Linked DNA regions of Homo sapiens. The protein of the gene in region 3 purifies or fractionates together with the protein of the main gene of each other region. This does not show direct contact. Each region holds a gene or a part of one and is shown on either strand. Other genes may lie near its edges. The genes, in order: CTSS, IRF2BPL and IRF2.

Region 1 (7,106 bases), on a different chromosome or scaffold from region 3:
ATTGCATTTTTTACAAATTGAAGGTTTGTGGCAACTCTACATTCAGCAAGTCTATTGGTACCATTTTCCCAAAAGCATGTGCTCACATTGTGTCCTTGTACCACATTTTGGTAATTCTCACAATATTTCAAACTTTCTCATCATTATTATATCTGTTATGGTCATCTGTGATCAATGATCTTTGATGTTACTTCATAATTTTGAGGGTGAGCTACAAACCACACCTATATAAGATAGCAGACTTAACCCACAAATGTTGTGTGTGTTCTGACTGATCCACGGACTGGCCACACCCCCATCTCTCTCCTCAGGCCTCCCTGTTCCCTGAGACACAATGATATTGAAATTATGCCACATGATAACCCTATGATAGCTTCTAAGTGTTCAAGTAAAAAGAAAAGTTGCATATCTCTCACTTTAAGTCAAAAGCTAGATGTGATTAAGCTTAGCGGGAAAGGCATGTTGAAAGCCAAGACAGGCCAGAACCTAGCCTAGGCCACTTGTACCGAACAGTCAGGCATGCTGTGAATGTAAAGGAAAAGTGCTTGAAGGAAATTAAAAATGCTGCTCTGCTGAACACACAAATGACAAGAAAGTGAAACAGCCTTATTGCTGATACAGAGAAAATGTGAGTGGTCTAGATACAAGAGTAAGCCAGCCCAGCATGCCTTTACGCCAAAACCTAATCCAGAACAAGACCCTAACTCTCTTCTATTGTAAGAAGGCTGAGAGAGGCGAGGAAGCTACAGAAGAAAAGTTTGAAGCCAGCAGATGTTGGTTCATGAGGTTTAAAATTGCCTCGCCTCACCCCGCCCCGCCTCACCCCGCCCCGCCCCGCCCCGCCCCACCTTGCCCTGCCCTGCCCTGCCCTGCCCCTCTTTCTTCCTTCTTTCTCTTTCTTTCTTCCTTGTTTTTTAGAGACAGGTTTTCACTCTGTTGCCCAGGTTGGAGTGCAGTGGTATGATCATAGCTCACTGTAACCTCAAATTCCTGGGTTCAAGGAGTCCTCCTGCCTCACCCTCCCAAGTAGCTGAGACTACAAGTGAGTGTCACCATATCCGGCTAATTTTTATTTTTATTTTTCGTAGAGATAAGGGTCTCGCGATGTTGCTCAGGCTGGTGTCAAACTCCCAGGCTCAAGCAATCCTCCCACCTCAGCCTCCAAAGCTAGAATTACAGGCATGAACCACCGTGCTCAGCCAATATCCTTTCTTTCTTTCTTTAAATTCTAATTATTGTTTATTTTATTTTTTACCACTTCTGTAGAGGAAGAAAGAAGGATGACGCGCATCTACACCAACAGACACTGGGCCTTTATTGGCCACAGCTTCTTTCAGGACATCTTCTCTGCCATAAGGAAGTTCAGTGTACTTTGAACATGTGGCAGCACGATATTTTGAGTCATATTGACATTTCTGATCCTGCAAAAAGAAGTATAAATATGATGAAGTATACTTCAACTCCTGTATAAATCACCTGTATCCTAAGCCTGGATTTTAAATGTCTCCCTTCCTTTCTTTAACTTTTTCATGTGTCTAAGGCTCCTTCCTTTGCAAATCTTCCAAATCCTAACAGTCCCGGGTTTCAGCAATAATGGAGGAAATACAGAACTATTCTATTCTTTCAAATTGTGAACATCCTCATACATGCAAAACTTGCCAGGACAATGGCCCCTCAGACTTTCAGGTGGACTGTAGGGAAATATTACATAGAGATAATAAACTCTAGATGAGAGCTTTAAAATCTTTTTGATGCCTGCAAGATGATCTGCAGCTAAAATGATGGTATATAAAGACCATATAATATGGGAAACACAAGTATTTCAAGTGGGAAAAGGAAAGTTACAAATTCATGTTTGTTGTATATACAACTATTTTGTATTTATTTATATTATTTATTTTTTTGAGATAGGCTCTCACTCCATTGTCCAGGCTGGAGTGCAGTAGCATAATCATGGCTCACTGCAGCCTCCAACTCCTGGGCCAAGTGATTCTCCCACCTCAGCTTCCTGAGTAGCTGGAACTGCTACTCAGGTGTGCACCACCATGCCTGGCTAATTTTTTTGATTTTTAGTAGAGGTGAGGTCTCACTATGTTGCACAGGCTGGTCTCAAACTCTTGAGCTCAAGCAATCCTCCCACCTCGACCTCCCAAAGTGCTGACATTACAGGTGTGAGCCACCACACTTGGCCAACTATGTTTTTTAAGTGCTTAACAAGAAAATAACTTGAAAGAAATAAACCAAAACAATAGTGGTTAAGGTAGAAGGTTTTTGAGTGATATTTTTATATTTTTAAAATCTTCTGTAACATGGACACAATCCTTAGGTTATCGTTATATCAAAATGTATAATGAATTTCTGAGGAAGAGGAGAGTGTTATTTAGCTTCTCAGTGGGTGGAAGAATGATGTGGTTAATGATCTGAGAATAAGGTTGAGCATGGGAGGCTGCAGAAGAAAAAGTTTAAATACAGAGAAATAATTTTAAGGATAGTTTGCTTAAAATCTGTTTAATTTTGGGATGGAGTCTTGCTCCGTTGCCGAGGCTGGAGTACAGTGGCGTGATCTCGGCTCACTGCACCTCCACCTCCTGAGTTCAAGCGATTCTCCTGCTTCAGCCTCCCGAGTAGCTGGGACCACAGGCATGCACCACCATGCCTGGCTAATTTTTGTATTTTTGGTAGAGACAGGGTTTCACCACGTTGGCCAGGCTGGTCTCAAACTCCTGACCTCAGGTGATCCACCCACCTCGGCCTTCCAAAGTGCTGAGATTATAGGTATGAGCCACTACGCCCAGTCATTAAAATCTGTTTTTAAGCATGAATGCTACTTCCTTATTTGTACTACTGATATATTAAGAAGAGTACTTCATCAGAAACAGAACTCTTGAGAATTTAAGAATTCCTCTTCAGGGTTCTCTCTCACACACAATACTGCTTCTCAAGCAATTGGCATGGTGGCAAGCCCAGCACAGTCAGTCAGTGGATAACATGAGATCATGGGGCAGCACAAAAAGTTTGCTTAAGACGCACCATGGCTTTGTAGGGATAGGAAGCGTCTGAGTCGATGCCCTTGTTATCAATGATGTACTGGAAAGCCGTTGTCATGAAGCCACCATTGCAGCCTTTGTTTCCATATTTTTCAGTTGAGCAATCCACCAGGTTCTGGGCACTGAGAGACACCAGCTTTCCTGTTTTCAGCTTCAGCTGTGCTTCCAGGGCCCCCACAGCACTGAAAGCCCAGCAAGCACCACAAGAACCCTAAAACAGATACAAGGTCACAAACGCAAATCACAGAAAATCATTCGGAATGACTTCCATAACCCAAACTGGACAACGCTCAGCTACATCAGTTCTGTCCCTAGTTCCCAGAAAGAGCTCCCCCACTACAGTTTCCTTCTGTCTTTAACAATGGGAATGAAGACTAAATTTAACTCAATTGTTATCTAGGCAAGGTCCAACCTTGATAGAGATTTGCAATCAGCCAAGCTCAGAACATAATGGCCATATTCAAATATACTTAGAAACAATACTCACTGAGCATGTACCAAATTGCACCTATTTTCACCCATAAGTAAGGGAGATAGTTGCCTACAGTAATGAGATTTTGAGAGAGCTAGGATGATTTCCTTGACCTAAAATACCCTTTCTCCTGTCATATGATGCCTGAAACATAAGAAGTTTAATCCTAGGTTGGCATTTTTCAAACCTTTGTTATCTTCAGAATTTTTTTGATTAAAAAATATTTTACAAGGAGGCATAAACAAACAAAAAAAGGCAAAGCTGCTTTAGTTTTAAAAGGGGCAGAGTGTCCAGAGCCCCATCATAATTGTTCTCTTTCTCTCTCCTTCCCTCCTCCCACCTTGCTCTCCACCAAAAGGAAGCAAACTGACATTGCTTTTGATTGAAGCAAAATTGTTCATTAAAATGCAAGCACCCAGAGAAAGGAGCTCATTAACTTACTCAGAGTTAACATCTAAATATGTGGTTTATTGGGTCTTCTAAAAGCTGTTATTTTAGAGAACCTCGGGTAAGAAATCCAAAACTAATTGAAAGAAAAATATGTAGGTGGAAAAGAATAAGAGATTAGCAGTACCATTTACTTCTTTTTGTTTGTTTGTTTTGAGACAGGGTTTCCTTCTGTCACTCAGACTGAAGTGCAGTGGTGTGATCATGGCTCACTGTAGCCTCAACCTCCCAGGCTCAAGCGATCCTCCCATCTCAGCCCCTCAAGTAGCTGGGACTACAGGAGCGCACCATGCCTGGCTAATTTTTATTTTTATTTTTTGTAGAGTCAGGGCCTCACTATATTGCCTAGGTTGGTTTCTAACTCCTGGGCTCAAGCGATCCTTCTGCCTCTGCCTCCCAAAGTGCTGGAATCACAGATGTGAGCCACTGTGCCTGGCCACCATTTACTTCCTAATAAATTTTTACTTTCTTCATTGATCACAACCTGGGGTAGCTGCTCAGAATGCTTTGATTCCTCTCACTTACCCTGACCTCTATGGTGATACATGTGTTTTACCTCTAACTAATTTAGGATTTTTGCAATTTTTTTAAAACAAGCAAACTAAAGGAAAATACAACAGCATAGGAACAATAATTTTACAAGGCACATATTTCATATTCTAACGATGCAAGACTAGCCATGAATTAACTTGAGTGGCTCAATTTATAGAACACTCTATCTCTAGTTCTTTCTTCTCCTTCAACTTTGAAACTCACAAGTGAAATGGAGAAACTTCCTGATCACCAGGGCTCTCTCACACAACACTGCTTCTCAAGCAATTGGCTTATTGGAGAGTCCAGTGCAGTCAATGCATAGCGTGAGCAATAAAAGTCTGTGTTAAACACCTATTTGCTTAGTTCAGTGTTTGTCTAAGTAGGTGGCTCTATGATCACTTAGAAAAGCACTGTGGGGGCTGAACACGAGGGCTCATGCCTATAATCCCAGGACTTTGGGAGGTGGAGGTAGGAGGATCACTTGAGCTCAGGAGCTTGAGATCAGCTTGGGCAACATGGCAAAACCCATCTCTGCTAAAAATACAAAGAAAAAAAAAGTGGTGGTGTGTGCCTGTAGTCACCGTGTAGGCTGAGATGGGAGGATCACTTGAGCCCAAGAGGCAGAGGTTGCAGTGAGCCCAGATCGCACCACTGCAGTCCAGCCTGGGCAACAGAGGGAGACCCTGTCTCAAACAAAACAAAACAAAACAAAACAAAAACCACTGTGGAGAATCCAGTTGTCCCTCAGTATCCACAAGGGATTGGTTCCAGGACCTCTGAGCATACCAAAGTCAAGAATTTTCAAGTTCCTTATATAAATTACTGAGTATTCGCATATAACCTACACATCCTCCTATACACTTTTTTTTTTTTTTTTTTTTAAGACAGGGTCTCACTCTATCGCCCAGGCTGGAGTGCAGTGGCAAGATCTCAGCTCACTGCAACCTCTGCCTCCCAGGTTCAAGTGATTCTCCTGCCTCACCCTCCCGAGTAGCTGGGATTACAGGCGCCCACCACCACGCCAGGCTAATTTTTGTATTTTCAGTAGAGACGGGACTTCACCATGTTGGCCAAGCTGGTCTCGAACTCCTGACCTCAAGTGATCTGCCTCCCTTGACCTGGAAAAGTGCTGGGATTACAGGCATGAGCCACTACGCCCGGCCCTCCCTTATACTTTACCTTTTTTTTTTTTTTTGAGATGGAGTCTCGCTCTTTAGCTCAGGCTGGAGTGCCATGGTGTGATCTCAGCTCACTGCAACCTCTGCCTCCCAGGTTCAAGTGATTCTCCTGCCTCACTCTCCTGAGTAACTGGGATTATAGGCATGTGCCACCAGGCCCAGTTAATTTTTGTATTTTTAGTAGAGACGGGGTTTCATCATGTTGGCCAGGCTGATCTGGAACTCCTGGCCTCAGGTGATGCGCCTGCCTCAGCCTCCCAAAGTAATGGTATTATAGGCGTGAGTGCCTGGCCTATTTTTTATTTTCATTTTTTTCTGGATATTTTTGATCCACGGTTGGTGGAATCTGCAGATGTGGAAGCTGTGGATATGGAGGGCCAACTGTATAAATAAAATATAATATGTGATCCTTGCCCTTAAGGAACTTATAATTTAGTTGGGAAGACAAGAATAACAAAAATAACTAGAAAGTAACACGTGGGACTGTAAGATTCACTGTCAAATTCTGTAGCTAGACTAAGCATTTAAAGAGCTCTACCTAGGGTTCAGAGGCTTGGGATGGTAATACTCACTTGATATTTCACTTCAGTAACACACCCTTTCTCTCTCCAGTCCACAGAATCAGGCAATATCCGATTAGGGTTTGACTTATATGTGATATTTCTCTGCCACTGGCTGGGAACTCTCAGGGAACTCATCAAAGACATCACTTCTTCACTGGTCTACAAAGCAAATATACAGTCAGGCATTGTTTAATGACTGGAATATGTTCTGAGAAATGCATCGTTAGGTGATTTTGTCATTGTGAAAACACCATAGTGTGTACTTACACAAACCTAGAGCGTATTGGCTCCTACATACCTAGGCTGTATGGTAGGGCCCATTGCTCCTAAACTACAAACCTGCACGGCATGGTACTGTACTGAAGGTTGTAGGCAATTGTAGAACAATATGAAGTACTTGTGTATCTAAATATATCTAAACATAGAAAAGGTAGAGTGAAAATACAGTATAAAAAGTAAAAATGGGAGCTGGGCATGGTGGCTCACGCCTGCAATCCCAGCACTTTGGGAGGCCGAGCCGGGCAAATCACCTGAGGTCAGGAGTTCAAGACCAGCCTGGCCAACATGGTGAAACCCCATCTCTACTAAAAATACAAAAATTAGCTGGGCATGGTGGTGCATGCCTGTAATCCCAGCTATTTGGGAGGCTGAGGCAGGAGAATCACTTGAGCCTGGGAGGCGGAGGTTGCAGTGAGCTGAGATCGCGCCAGTGCACTCCAGCCTGGGCGACAGAGTGAGACTCCATCTCAAAGAAAAAAAAAAAAAGTAAAAATGGTACTTCTATATAGGTCATTTACTATGAAAGGCCTGGAGTTGCTCTGGGTGAGTCAGTGAGTGAGTGGAGAGTGAATGTGAAGGCCCAGGA
Region 2 (7,559 bases), on a different chromosome or scaffold from region 3:
AACGTTCGTGGCAAATGGTGCAGCAGAGGGGTCCGCTGTTGGCCATGGGGGAATCCGGAATGTTTTGGGGGTGCACTTGGTCCATGCCCGGGTGGGCGCTAGGCGGCGGGGGCGCCACCTGTAAATTCAGGTCCCCGTTACGTGATGCCAAGCGGCGCTGCCCCGGCACGGAGGCCGGCGAGACTGGGCTGCTGCTGTTTCGCCGCGCCGACGCAGTGGTAGAGTGCACGGAACTGCCATCCTTGGGCGAGTGCGCTGTGCCCAGAGTATCTGCCACCGACATGAGAGCGGCCATAGGGGACGGACCGTTCTGGGGGGCTGACTCAGGTGGGGTGGTCCGGTTGGAATGGGGTCCCAGAGGTGGGGGCGGCGGAGGCGGACCCCCCGCCGCGTGCCCCGGCGCCGCGAAGCCCCCGGCGGACATGGTGAGCTTCAGCGCCTCGCTCTGGTTCGCCATCCACTGCTGCCTCTGCTGTTCCTCGCCCAGCTTCAGCGCGCCCTCGGCTGAGTCCGGGGGCTCCGGAGAGGCCTTTCTCTTGCGCAGGCTGGCGGCTGCGCCCCGGCCCGACGGCGCGGCGGGCGGCAAGGCCCCGGTCCCCGGGGGTGCGCTGGGGGCGCGGCTCAGACTCACCAGAGCAGTGGGCAGCATGGGACAGCTGGCGTCCAGGTAGGGCTGGGGCAGCATGTCGGCGCCGGGCACGCCCTCCTTGAAGAAGCGCACGGCTTCGGGGAGCAGGTCTCCAAGCAGGCGCCAGTCCCCGGAGCCGTGCTTCTTTTCGTACTCCAGGTACTTGAAACCCGAGGATAGGCCCCGGCCGAAGTCCTTCATGCAGTCCTGATACATCTGCTTGGCCACACCAGATGCACTGGAGTACACGTTGCCCGAGCCCGTGGGGTACTCAATGAACAGCTTCAATTCGTAGTCCATGCCGGGCTTGGAGACGGCGTCGAAGGCGAAAACGCGGCCCAGCAGCGAGTGGTCCTTCTTGAAGCGAACCTCGTAGGGCGTGCAGCCTGCCAGCGTGAGCAGCGTGTCGCGGACCATCTTGGGCTTGCTGGCCCACTCCTCGGCGCGGTTGCGCAGGCTCTCGCTCAGCTCGGCCAGGGCCTCGGCGTTGCGCTGCTTCTCCTTCAACTCGCGCTCCTGGTCTGTGCTCGACACCGAGCCGGGCCTCTTACCACCAGCACCCACGCCCACCTCTGCCACCGACGAAGAGGTCGAAGACGACGCGGAGGACGACGTGGCCGATACACCCGGGGTACCCCCGAGACAAGCGGGGCCCCCAGGAGCCCCTGGGGGAGCAGGCGTCGGGGGCCCACGGCTGCCCAGGGCGTGGGGAGGGGGTGGGGGGAGTACCGCAGCGCTGGCCGGGCCGTTAAGCAGCGTCTGCGGTAGCAGGTTGGGGGGCACGGTGAGCTGGGGGCCTCCGCCACCCCCCGGGTTGGGCAGCCCCGTAACCAGCCCACCGTGCGTTCCACGCCGAGACGCCACCGACGCCGCCGCTGAAGAAGAATTGGGGCTCTGACGGTTCAGCTCTGGGGGTCCCTCCTCTGGTGTTGGTTTGGGGAAGCCGTTTGGGCCCCCCAGGCCGTTGGGCAGTCGCGCGGTGTGGCTGCTGCTTCCCAGGCTCACCGGCGGTGGCGGGTACTCGAAGCGGCTGCGCTGTTCCACCGCAGCGGCGGCGGCGGCGGCGGCGGCGGCGGCAGCGCTTAGGCCGTAGCGCTCCAGGCCAGACGGGGCCGCCAGCACCGCAGGCTTGCTGGAACCATCAACGTGGTTGAGCTGTTGTTGCTGCTGCTGCTGCTGCTGCTGCTGCTGCTGTTGCTGCTGCTGCTGCTGCTGTTGCTGTTGCTGTTGCGCGGCGGCGGCGGCGGCCGCCGCTGCTGCCGCCGCCGCCGCCGCTTCCTTAGCCGACAGGGCCACTGTCTTGACCCCGACGGGCGGCGGCGGCCCGGGGGAGCGGCCGTCCTGGAAGCAGCCGTGCGCCCGCTTCAGCTGGCGCGCTGTCTCGATCACGAATTCGATGCGATCAGCGCCCTCGTAGTTGACGCAACCGCGGCATACGGGTTCCGAGAAGTCCCAGATCATGGCCCAGGGCATGCGGGGCAGGTCGCACAGGTAGCAAGATTGTCTCCGGGACGAGGACACCTGCGCCGCCGACATGATGCCTGCCCTGGGGAAGGTAGGCCCCCGCCCGGGCTGTCTCCGCGGCGCCTTCTCCTCCGGGAGGACTGGCCGGCTGGGGAGGGAGTCCGACTGCGGGGGAGGGAGGAGGGGGGGCGAGAAAGTTCTGCCCCAGGGGCTGGAGGGAACGCGAGTCTCCACCGCCGGCGCAGCGCCTCGCCGTGGGGGCTCCACCGCCCGGGCAGCGGACGGGTTCAGCCCTCTCTTCGCCCCCACCTCCTACTGCGGTTGACTCGTCGCGAGGGGAGCTCAGGCGCCTTCTTCCTGGTGCTGCAGACTTGGGCTGGAAGCTCCCGGCCCGAGGGGAGGGGGCGAGGGTGCCCGGTGGTGGCCGCCGTTGCCTCTTGGCCCCCTCCCCGGAGTGGCTGGTGCGTGGAAGCTCGAAAGGGGCTGTCTCTTCCTCTCCCCGGGGACCCCCCTACGAGCTGCGTCCTCTCCCCGACGGGCCCCCTGGGGCGAGGGCCAGAGGGTTCAGTGCCACCCGGTGCCCGGGTCCAATCTTGCTGAAGCCGCTGCTTCCCCGGAGGACCGGGGGAGGGGGTGGCAGCCGAGAAAGGACCTTCTCCCCTCCGCAGCGTCGGCCGTTCTGCTGGCGGCGACTGGGTTTGCACCCCGGAGGGAGCCGCCGCGGCCACTGCTTCCAGGACGCACGAGAGCAGAGGAGAGGAGTGCACGCACGCAGGCTCCCGCCGCCCCCAGGCCTGGCCGGCGCCCGGGCCGCCGCGGCTGGCGGCGCTCACGTTGGCTGCAGGGCGCTCGCGCGGCGCCTCGGCCCGGGTCGCATCCCTTCCCGCTCGTGCTCACGCTCGCCCGGAATGTGGGGTTGTGATTGTTACTCTACGTTCCGGAGGCGCGTCTCGGCGCTCCTGCTCCGGCTGCGGCTCGCGCTGTCCCCGGCTTGGCCGCGCGGGATGCCGCCCGGGCGGAGCGCTGACGTCACCGCCATGCTCTGCACCAGTTCTTCCCCCTCCCCTTTACACTTCCTCTGTGGAGCCCACTTGTTGCTCAGGCAAGGCGCATGCGCGGCAGGACGCCCAGATTCCTCCCAGCCGGCCCCTCCTCCGCGCCTCCGCCCTCCCCTCCCCCCTCGCCGTGTGTGTACAACAGCTGAGGCCCGGCGAGCTAATGCTGGAAGTCCAGAGCTGGGGGTGGAAATTAAACAGACGATGACCTTTCCTTTCCCTGCCGGGCATTCCCAAGTAAAAACGCATTTAAGAACCACTAGCGTCGTTTCCGATCCCTGCTCCCCACCCCACCCCCAAGCCTCGGCAGTGAATTTAAATGTCCTGTTTCAGGATTTTTCGCCGTGAATTTCGTATAAGGTATTAACCATTTCATCTGCGGTTGAACCTTATCCCCCCCGGCATGGATGTTAAATTCATCGCCACCACTGATGCCGAAGCACCTGCAAAATTAGCTGTTTTCCAATCTTCCAGAAATTGTCTTTTCTATTTGTTTTTGTGCCCTGATCTAGGAACCCGGGCTTCAACGATAGAGCTAAATGAATTCAGAGTGCGCTACCCTTCCCCCCAGCCGCACTTTAAAAATTTTGGCTGAACGTCTGAAGAAGATACGAGCACCCCGAGGCCTTTAAGGAAAACAGGCAACTGGCTGCGCACAGCTGCAGTTCAGGGCAGGGAGGGGGAGGGGCCGGAGAGGCCAAACAGGTGAGTGTTTTTTCTAGAGTTTGATTTTTAAAAGGTGGAGGCAGCATTTAATAATACTGATACATTTTTGTAAAGCACAGCCGCAGTTTTCAAAGTTCTTTCTCAGGCGCTGTGATCTCACTCCATGTTGCCCCAGAAGGCGGAACAAGGCCGTGATTTTTTTTTTTTTTTTTTTTTAAGACGGAGTCTTGCTCTGTCGCCCAGGCTGGAGTGCAAAATGGCGCGATCTCGGCTCACTGCAACCTCTGCCTCGCAGGTTCAAGCGATTCTTCCGCCTCAGCCTCCCAAGTAGCTGTGATTACCGGCACCCGCCATCAGGCCCAGCTAATTTTTTGTATTTTTGTAGAGACATGGTTTCACCATGTTAGCCAGCTGGTCTTGAACTCCTGACCTCAGGTGATCCTCCCGCCTCGGCCTTCCAAAGTGCTGGGATTACAAGCATGAACCACCACGCCCGGCCAAGGCCGTGATTTCTTCTGCCTTACAAGATCACTGCTCATCAGTATTGCTTATGGCACGATGGATATGTTGGTCATAGCTCTAGTTGGGGCATTTCTATTGATTATTCTAATTATTGGGTTTGCTTTTTTTTTTTTTTTTATTTCATGAAAACTGAGATAATCCCAGGGAAGGCTGGAGAAGGGAAAGCAATATAATGGGATTTCGGATTCTGAAGTGTGGCCCACCAGATTGAAATTTCCTCTCCATCACTAACTGGCTCTCCACCCTTAAGCTAGTTACCCACAAAATCTCTCTTTTCCATGGAAAAGAGAATGGAATGATAGCTCCCAGGTTGTTAGGGTTGTTTGAGATTTCAACTTCGGTTTTTTGTTTTTTTGAGATAGGATCTTGTTCTGTTGCCCAGGCTGGAGTGCAGTGGCACACTCGCGGCTGGCAGCAGCCTGACCTCCCAGGCTCAAGTAATCCTCCCACCTCAGCCTCCCTAGTAGCTGGGACTACAGGCATGTGCCATTACACCTGGCCAATTTTTTTGTATTTTTGGAAAGGGATGGGGTTTTGCCGTGTTGCCCAGGCTGGTCTCAAACTCCTGGGCCCAAGTGATGCACCCACCTTGGCCTCCCAAAGTGTTGGGATTACAGGCATGAGCCACCTCACCCGGCCTCAATTTGTTTCTTGTCATAAGAAGAGATAACGCTTACTTAGACTTGCCGTGGGACCTTAGTAAACTAGGTGGCTTTACTTGCATCACCCTTAATATTATCTACATTATTAAGGGGATATTATCTATAGTATTTTGTTGTTGTTTTGAGACAGAGTCCACTCTGTCACCCAGGCTGGAGTACAGTGACGCAATCTCAGCTCACTGCAACCTCCACCTCCCAGGTTCAAGCAATTCTCCTGCCTCAGTCTCCCAAGTACCTGGGGATACAGGCGCCCGCCACCACACCCAGCTCATTTTTGTATTTTTAGTAGAGACGGACTTTCACCATGTTGGCCAGGCTGGTCTCGAACTCCTGACCTCAGGTGATCCTCCCGCCTCAGCCTCCCAAAGTGCTGGGATTACAGGCATGACCCACCGTGACCGGCCTATTACAGTATTAAACCCTTAATATTATCTACAGGGTAGATTCTTTTACCTCCATTTTACAAACCAGGAAAGTAAAGAGGCTATATAACTTGCCTACAGCCATTAGTGATGGGGCTGGGATTTGAATCCAGTAAATCTGATTTGAGGTGTCTTTGACAAGCTCAGGCTTGCAGAGGTGGTTTGGGGTGCTCAAAATTCCCATCAGCCCCAGTTGATTTGGTGTTACATACAATCTTACGTAAGTACTATGCCAATACACCTTCATAACCAACCCCCAGCCTCCCCTTCCAAGCGCATTTGTACCACTGAGTTCTATATACAGAAGTTGTAGATCTGTCACTACCAGACTGTAACTTAAATACACCATACAGAATGGAGAGCAGTGTTGGACTCACAGTTAGTGTTAGTTATTATTAGTATTGATACTAGTGTTGGTACTATTGCTGGTTGACATGTGACAGTACTTAGTAAACTGCATAAATTGTGAGGATCACTATTATCACTCTTATTACTAGTAATTGCAATAAAGTTCAGTGGAAGCAACAAGAGATACTTACTTTTATTTTGACACTTGACTTCCAGAGCCTGTTCCCCTATCCAACCCTCCCCAGAGCCCCAATCTCCCACTCATTCTGGGGCCCCTGAGTGCAAAGGAAAGGCGAGTTTTTAAGGACAGAAGAGGAGGAGGAGCCCTAGGGAGCCCCTCTTTCATCTCAAAGCAGCCAGATTTCTGTTTTTGCAAAACAGTGAGCTCACTGTGCACTCTAGAGCAATAATAAACTTTCTCTGGCCTGCTGGCACTTTGCAGTGATTCCTCTGCAAAGAGTTGCTTGGGGAGCATTGCCTCACTCTCCCAGACTTCAGCCCTCCCCACACTACCGCTACCCTGGAGTGAGTCAAAACATAGGGGTGGGAAATGGTTTGACATCCCCGCCAGCCTGGGGCTCCTTAGCTTTGGCTCGGTTGGGTGACCCATTTCTTTACATTAATATTTATTCAGCCCTTCCCTTTATTAAACCAAAAATATTAGGGAAATAGCAACTTAGCCACAACCCTCCAGCCAGGCTGCTAGAGAAAGCAAGTTGGATTCTATGTCATGGTGTTATGTTTGGTATGCACACACATATGTCTCCATCTCCCTGTCTGTCTCTGTCTTCACTGTTACTAAAGGAGATATATATACACACATACATGCTGGGGTGCCTTCAGACACACTGAGTTAGAAATCAACGTGTATTTAAACAGACTTCCATTACAGACTCATAATCCTTTCATTTATAAAACACAGCTGTCTCCAAACCGCCCCCCCCCCCCCAACCAAAAAAAAGAATCAACATCATTTGTGGTATCTCTTGTTGCCTGAGATGGCCGTTTGGGGATGTGTGAGAGACGGTGAGAGGCTAGAACTCCAGTGTTCTGGAGGTGGGTTTTCTCCCTGAAGAAGAGTCCCGTGGAACAAAACTATGACAACGGTGGAAAGGAACTGGAAAGGATTTGGGAGGGGGGTGGTGGAGGTGGAGGAGCCTCAACGTAAACTGCCAGGTGTAGAGACTCAAAGAACTCTGTCCATGGGGTCTGGGAGACAAGCAGAGACTAGCAGAGCCGGGCGCCAAACGGCGGCATCATCTTCCCAAAGTTCCTTCCTACTGTCGCTTTCCCCACCCAGCTTGCCATCTGGGCTGGCATCCTCAGAGAACCCTGCTCTAAACTGGAGCAAAAGGTCAGCTTTCCACCTGGCCTTGCCGGAGCACCATAGCCCAAGGTTACTAGTGGTGAGAAGGTCGCCAGGCGCGCACTTCGAAGCTCCCTGCACTCTCTCTCCTGCCCCCGCCGTTTTGTGGCAGAGACGGGGCGCGGGTGTGTGTGTGTGTTGCGGAGGGGGGGCTCTTGGCCTGGCAGCCCTGCAGTCAGCTGGCTCAACCTTCAAGGAGGCCCGGGCTGAACCTCGCGTCACCCTGCTGCAACGCGCGCCGCCAAGCGCTCCAGCGAGAGAAAGGCCTTTTTTGGTAACAGCCCCGCGGTAAGCGGGACCCACTTCTCTGGCCTGCGAGATCCGCCTTGGAGAAGATGAAAACAAACGTCTGCGTTGGGCCCTCCTCTGGCCTTTCGATGGCCCCTGATCGCCGCGCGCCAGGAACCCCAGAGGCGCAGTTTGAGC
Region 3 (7,106 bases):
ATATTCTCAATTACTTTCACCAGGAGTAAATTATTTTCAAATCGGAATCCTCTTAATCTCAAAGCGATTGTGTCTTTGCTCTGCCCAACAAAATGCAAGCCTGGTGTGGTTTCCCGAAGGATTCAAAGCCTTTACTGATGGCTGCTGGTCAGCAGGCGATCTCCACTCTCTCATTATAGCCAGTGAGTCCTTCAGATGATGTTTTCTTCTCGAGTCTACTCTCCAGCCCCTCTTACCCATCCTCCCCCACCCCATTATTCTACTGTGGTTTTCTTCTACTAAACCATCAACCACCTAATAAAATTCTGATGCCACAGATCAGGCAAGGGGTCACTTTGTAATGCACCTTTAAACATGACATGTCTCTCCGCCAGAGCTTCCCAAAGTGGCACTTTGAAATGTCCCTCCCTAGTATGAAAGTTTCACAAATCACACTAGAATTTTATGTTGTCTTAAAACATCCAACGCAAGTACTATCTCTTCTCTTTCTCATCATAATATTTAGACCACAGAGGAGAAGACAGACTTGCAAAACTGAATGTGGTTTTGTAATATACTACTGGGATTATGATTCAACGATCAGTAGGGGGAAAAACTAGCAAACAGCAGCCTCCAAATACCAGTTTCCCAAACAGATGAATAAAGGTGGTCAGAGCATGCCGGGCGCGGTGGCTCACGCCTGGAATCCCAGCACTTTGGGAGGCCGAAGCGGGTGGATCACGAGGTCAGGAGATCGAGACCATCCTGGCTAACACGGTGAAACCCCGTCTCTACTAAAAATACAAAAAAAATTAGCCGGGCTTGGTTGTGGGTGCCTGTAGTCCCAGCTACTCGGGAGGCTGAGGCAGGAGAATGGCGTGAACCCGGGAGGTGGAGCTTGCAGTGAGCCGAGATCGCACCACTGCACTCCAGCCTGGGCGACAGAGCGAGACTCCGTCTCAAAAAAAAAAAAAAAAAAAAAAAGGTGGTCAGAGGAGATTGAAATTCAGATGAACAGCCCAAACAAAGGAACTCCATCATGAAAAACAGGCAAATGGCCGACTCTACTGGAGAACATAAAGCAAGAAAGGTGAATACACGCAGAAAGCTGCCTTTCCTGACAGCATGTTATACAATTTCTGACGGAGGAACTAAAATTAGCTACAGTCAGTAGCAGGGAAATGTTTTACACCACTGTGAGCTCTAGAACATCAGCAGCGATGGAACATTTTGCCTCCAACCAGTAAGCCTCCCTCCACGAGGTTCTGGAGAATCCAGACAATGAAAACAACGGAAAGAACCAAAGGCCAGGCTGAAAAGCCAGGCTCCAGCAAAACCTCCTGTTGACTGCCATCCTGGCACTGAAATCCTTCCTTTCAAACCTATGCAAATGTCCTGAAGAGAGTAATGAAATGTTCATTTCTCTCTGCATGGATCTGCTGTTCTCCGGAATCTTTTGCTTGAGCAAATGCCACTGCTGGCAGAACAGCAAGAAGAGGTCTTTCCAGAATCCCCAAGAAGACCTCAGAAAAGTCTTACTCAACAGATAAACATAGAAGTCTATTCTAAAGCTCCAACCCCCTAAAAAAAGAAGAGAGAAAGAAAACCACATGGAGTGTAACGATGCCTGCAGCAGCAGGCTATAGAAGAAAGTCATGGGTTTTTAGCCATAACTATGTAAATATAAGCAAAGTGGCTGAGTGTTTCACGCTTCGGTTAGCTCTACTGTAAAATTTAGGCATAAACATTCTGCTCTGCCTCCTTTGGTGGGTCCTTGTGAAAATCAAATGAGATCACGGGATGTGGCTGTGTTCTGAACGGCAGAGCCCGTGCGCTGTCCAGGGCAGCGACACAGGGCGGGCGTTAAGGACCGGCCTTTGGCATCAACGGCTCATGGGTTCTAGCTGTGCTCCCAATCGTTCCTCCCTCAGACACGCTGCTCTACCCACGCCAGCCGCAGATCCATATATATATATTTTTTTTTCTTTTTTTTTTTTTTTAAGACAGGATCTCGCTCTGTCACCCAGGCTGGAGTGCAATGGTGCAACCAGGGCTCAATGAAGCCTTGAACTCCTGGGCTCAAGGGGATGCTCCTGCCTCAGCCTTCCAAGTGGCTGGGACTACGGGCACATGCCACCACACCCGGTTAACTTTTTTTATTTTTTGTAGAAGTGTGGTCTCACTATGTTGCCCAGGCTGGTCTCCAATTTCCGGGCTCAAGTGATCCTCCCACTTCAGCCTTCCAGTGCAGGGATTACAGACGTGAGCCACCACACCCAGCCAGATTCCTCACTTTTAAAAACGGGATGATGACGATACCCAGGCTGACAGGGTTACTCTAATTATAATTAAACAAGTCAACTGTATCATACCAGGCATGGCAGCTCATGCCCGTAATCCCAGCACTTTGGGAGGCTGAGGCGAGCAGATCACTTGAGCCCAGGAGTTCTAGACCAACCTGGGCAGCAAGGCAGAACCCTATTTCTATTAACAACAACAACAAACAACAACAACAACAGTCAACTGTACCCAAGCACTGAGCATGGTTCCCAGGGCACAATAAATTTGCAAAACATAGTAGTTCTTGTGACTGCACTCTGGCAAGGACCAAACAGGGACTGGCACGTGTAAGAGTCCAAAACGCATTTGCTGAATAAAGCACCGAAGACAAGCTTATCCTGTTTGACAGATTATAATCTTCCTGTGGCCAAGGTCTATTCTCACATTCCACTTACGCTCCTAGCATAAATGCACACTAGGACCTATGCTAAGTGAAATAAGCCAGTCACAAAACAACAAGCACTATGATTCCACTCATAGGAGGTACCTAGAATAGCCAAATTCACTGAGATAGAAAATAGGCAGGAGGTTGCCAGGGGCTGGGGTGGAGGAGGGAAAAGAGGACTTAGTGTTTAATGCAGACAGAGTTTCAGTTTCGCAAGATGAAAAACGTTCTGGAGGTGGATGCTGGTGATGGCTGCGACAACATTAATGCACTGAATGCTACTAAACTGTGTACCTAAAAATGGCTAAAATGGTAAATTTTATGTTAATGTATTTTACCACAATTTTTAAAAGTGAAAAAAAAAAGAAAGTTGGCATTCAGGGAAAATGAGATTAGACTTAGTGGCTGATAATTCACAAACAACAGTCCTTTGAGTCAACTCTAATTCCAACGCTGGTCGGAGCCAGTGTTGGGGGTGGCACCTACTGGAGGACATCCCATTTGGCAGCGTGTAAAGAGCACAGGGAAGAATCCCTGAACTATTTGCTAGAGCTGAACTGCAGTTTCCCAGGATGGGGACTCTGCTTTTTATTTTTAATATCTGCAAGCAGTAACACTGACTCAGAATTTATATTTCCTAATTACAATTGATTTCCACAAAATTCAATGGAGATCATCAGGAAGAGAGGAGAAGATGAAGTAATGTTGGCGAACGAGAGGAGCCATCCTTTTACTCTGGAAGAATGGAAGAACCAACTGGATCTGTTCCTCCCCCTGTGACTCTGCCTGGGCCAACTCCTGTCATTATGTAGCCAAGTCCCTGGAGAATTGGAAATGGCTCAGTCATCTGGCCTAATTAGAACCTGTACTAGATATAAAAAGAAAGAGAAAATATGTGGAAAGGACAAGTACGCTTGGTGGATGGAATGGATCTAGCAATGAGCTTGGGGTCTGAAGGCTGAGGTCAAGTCCTGGCCCAAACACTTGCTGACTGTACGACCCTGCGCAAGCCCCTTCCCTTTCAGAAATGAAGGAACAGGAAGAGATCATCTCTAAGGTCCTATCCAGCCTGCTCAAACTGAGAATCCATTAAAACACTCTGCCAAATTTCTAATAACTTGGGCTAATAAATTAGACTCTGATGAACTACTGCCCTAAAGAAATCTTATCTGTAACCATATATAAAAATGTTATGGGAGGCCAGGCACTGTGGGTCACACCTGTAATTCCAGCACTTTGGGAGGCCAAGGTGGGCGGATCACCTGACGTCAGGAGCTCGAGACCAGCCTGGCCAACATGGTGAATCCCCGTCTCTACTAAAAATACAAAAATTAGCTGGCATGGTGGTGTGCGCCTGTAATCCCAGCTACTCAGGAGGCTGAGGCAGAAGAATCTCTTGAACCTGGGAGGCGGAGGTTACAGTGAGCCGAGATCATCCCACTGCACTCCAGCCTGGGAGACAGAGCGAGACTCTGTCTCAAAAAAAAAAAAAATAAATAAATAAATAAAAAATGTCATGGCCAACTGAGTAAAGAAATGCTGTGATCCTGTCCTCTACCTGAGAACAAAAGTGTCCAAGAAGATGTTGATCAAGATAATTAAAGTATGAAAAACTCCAGGGAGAATAACTCCTAGGACAGAGGAGGGATGCTCCGTGGGGTGGTGAGATGGGTGACCCTAGACCAAAGGACTGCGCGGCCGGTTCCCACGCCTCCCGGAGCCTCCCGCTGACGCTTACCTGCATAGGAAGACACGGGGGAGATCTGCAGAGGGTAGAGCTCGCTCATGCTGACCGGCTGCTCGTCGCTCTCAGTGGTCACCTCTACAACTTGGCAAATGTCTGGCGGATTGGTGACAATCTCTTGATTCTCAATGTTGCTGTCCAGATGGGACTGTCCTACAACTTCAAAGAAAAGACAGCCATCATGCAAAGTCTGCTGACCTCACAATTCTAGCACACTTTCTCAAGAAAGAGTCTTCCCCAAAAGAGCCAGGTCGCCAGGCTCCCATCACCATCTGTCCCCTGCCATGGGGCTGAAGAACACGCCTGAGCTCTGTAGCTCTGGTGTGATGTCTCCCAGGGAGCAGCCGGCCAGCACTTGGCTCCCCAGGTCTATCTCCAGCATGCCTGCCAATGGCACGCACGGTGGCCATGTCCTTTCCAGCTCAGCAGAATTCCACAGTCAACCCCGTCACAGCCGAGGCCACAGGACCAGAGGCGGCATCCAGCCCCAGCCCCAGGGCCAGACATGACAGTACTTTGAACCTGACCGATTTCTGCTCCCTGCTCTTGCTCCAAAAGAAGGCGCTGTGCTTATTTTCTGGGTTCTACAATCCAGGGAGACATTATCAAACCTTACTAAAGAGGAAGGGCCATGAAAATCTACCCAATTGTGTCACATCTAGCTGTGTGAATGTTTGTGTTCAGGTTTTGTATGAACATAAGTTTCCATTTCTCTGGGATAAATGCCCAAGGTCCCCATCTAGCTGGGTGGCGCTCTGCTTACGCTCCCAGCTCTCTTCCTGCTCTACAGGCAACATGTCCAACTGGCTGAAATATCAGCACAATGGAATAGAGTCAGATCTCCAATTCTGGCAAACATTAGTAGCATCAGCTCCCCGGAACACTGATAAGATGGATTCTGACCACCCTGGCTCTGAAAACTGCCTCAAATATTTTTCTTATATTGTTTATTTTGAGATCATTGTAAACTCACATACAGTTGTAAGAAATAATACAGAGAGATCCTGTGTGCCTTTTACTCAACTTCTTCCAATGGTTATAGGCTACAAAGCTAGAATACAATATCGCAACCAGAGTATTGACATAAATAACAATCCACCCATCTTGTTCCGATTTCCTCAGTTTTACTTGCACTCTTTTGTGTGAGTGTGTACCTGCACCAGGACTAAGTGCAATTTTATCACACATAAAGGTTCATGTACCTACCACCACTGTCAAAACACCAAACAGTTCCATCACGACCAATCTCTCTCACGTTACTCTTTGTAACCATAGCCACCTTCCTTCAGTACCTCCCCATCCATCTCTTTGTCCATGACCCCTGGGCAACTATTAATCTGTTCCCCATTTCATTAATTTGTTCATTTCAAGGATGTTATATTAATGGACTCATACAGTAGACTTTTGGGGCTGGCTTTTTTTTTACTCAGCATAATTCACCGCAGAGTCACCCAAGTTGTTGTGTGTATCAGTCATCGGTTCCTTTTCAATTGCCGAGTAGTATTCCACGGTATAGGTGTACCAGTGTGTTTATTCTCCCCTCTGAAGGATGTCTGAGTTGCTACAAGCCTTTGACTATTACAAATAATGCTGCTATGGATGTTTGTGTTCAGGTTTTGTATGAATATAAGTTTCCATTTCTCTGGGATAAATGCCCAAGAATGCAATTGCTGAGTCATATGGTAATTTCATGTTTAATTTTACAAGAAAATTGCCAAACTGCTTCCCGGAGTGACCGTGCCATTTTACATTCCCACCAGCAGTGTCTGAGTGATCAAATTTCTCCACAGCCTCGGCAGCATTTCGTGTCATCACTGTTTATTTATTTTGGCCATTCTCATAGGTAAGTCATGATGTTTCATGGCCATTTTAATTTGAAGGTCCCTAAGGTCCTGCCCTCATTTTGAATGAAACTGACCTCATACCACTGTTAGTTGGATGAAATGTCCCTGAAAATTAGCTTCAATAAATAAAGGTGAAGAAATAATTCCCAAGGTCCTCAAAGCACTTTGCCACCATCATCAACGTTTTACTCATACCTGTATCTGTTATTTTAACATTTTAACCCATAAGGATGACAGAGAAAGCATCGTTATCCTGTTATAGATGAAGAAACTCAGGCACAGAGAGGGAGAGTGACTTGTCCAGACTCGCACAGCTTGGAGTATATGTGGTGCTCTATGTTGCAGTCATTTTCTCACCAATCGGCAAAGTATTCAGGTTAGAACGCATTCCAGTCTCCTTGAGACGCCAGGCGTCATGGAGAGGCTCGTTTTAATCACTCCAAGTATTTTATTTTCTGAAGTATTTTTGTTTATAAACAGGTTCCTGTTTTAATTGCTGTCTGTGGAGTGACAAGCACATTATCTGATTTCTACGCAGGGAAGGTTTTAGAGGGCAGTGGCAATTCATAGGTTCTTTAATAAAGAAAGGAAAGGCACAAAAGAGGCTCAGAAAGGGGATTTGGGGCTGTGATACAAGAGTCCAAAAGCCACAGCATACAGAATGGAAGGGAAACCGGATCCTGTTTAGGTTTTCCTGGTGGGGATAAAATTAAAGAAAAGGCAGGCAGGCTATATATGGCAGGCAGACTCCCAAGCCCATTTATTTCATCCTTTGGATTATCCTACGTGAGGGTGAGGACATCAATTATGCAGG

The links.
Region 1: the proteins of IRF2 (region 3) and CTSS purify together in Homo sapiens (affinity purification with mass spectrometry; 2 studies listed by BioGRID and IntAct, with this or other methods). This does not show direct contact.
Region 2: the proteins of IRF2 (region 3) and IRF2BPL purify together in Homo sapiens (affinity purification with mass spectrometry; 4 studies listed by BioGRID and IntAct, with this or other methods). This does not show direct contact.

What each region holds. Positions count from the first base shown.
Region 1 is NC_000001.11:150,748,751-150,755,856, forward strand, and holds part of CTSS (cathepsin S isoform 1 preproprotein), read right to left. Parts: intron 6,401-7,106; coding exon 6,251-6,400; intron 3,259-6,250; coding exon 3,031-3,258; intron 1,422-3,030; coding exon 1,256-1,421; intron 1-1,255. UniProt on the Homo sapiens protein: Thiol protease. Key protease responsible for the removal of the invariant chain from MHC class II molecules and MHC class II antigen presentation. The bond-specificity of this proteinase is in part similar to the specificities of cathepsin L.
Region 2 is NC_000014.9:77,025,629-77,033,187, forward strand, and holds the start of IRF2BPL (probable E3 ubiquitin-protein ligase IRF2BPL), read right to left. Parts: upstream 3,081-7,559; 5' UTR 2,165-3,080; coding exon 1-2,164. UniProt on the Homo sapiens protein: Probable E3 ubiquitin protein ligase involved in the proteasome-mediated ubiquitin-dependent degradation of target proteins. Through the degradation of CTNNB1, functions downstream of FOXF2 to negatively regulate the Wnt signaling pathway.
Region 3 is NC_000004.12:184,394,473-184,401,578, forward strand, and holds part of IRF2 (interferon regulatory factor 2), read right to left. Parts: intron 4,608-7,106; coding exon 4,443-4,607; intron 1-4,442. UniProt on the Homo sapiens protein: Specifically binds to the upstream regulatory region of type I IFN and IFN-inducible MHC class I genes (the interferon consensus sequence (ICS)) and represses those genes. Also acts as an activator for several genes including H4 and IL7.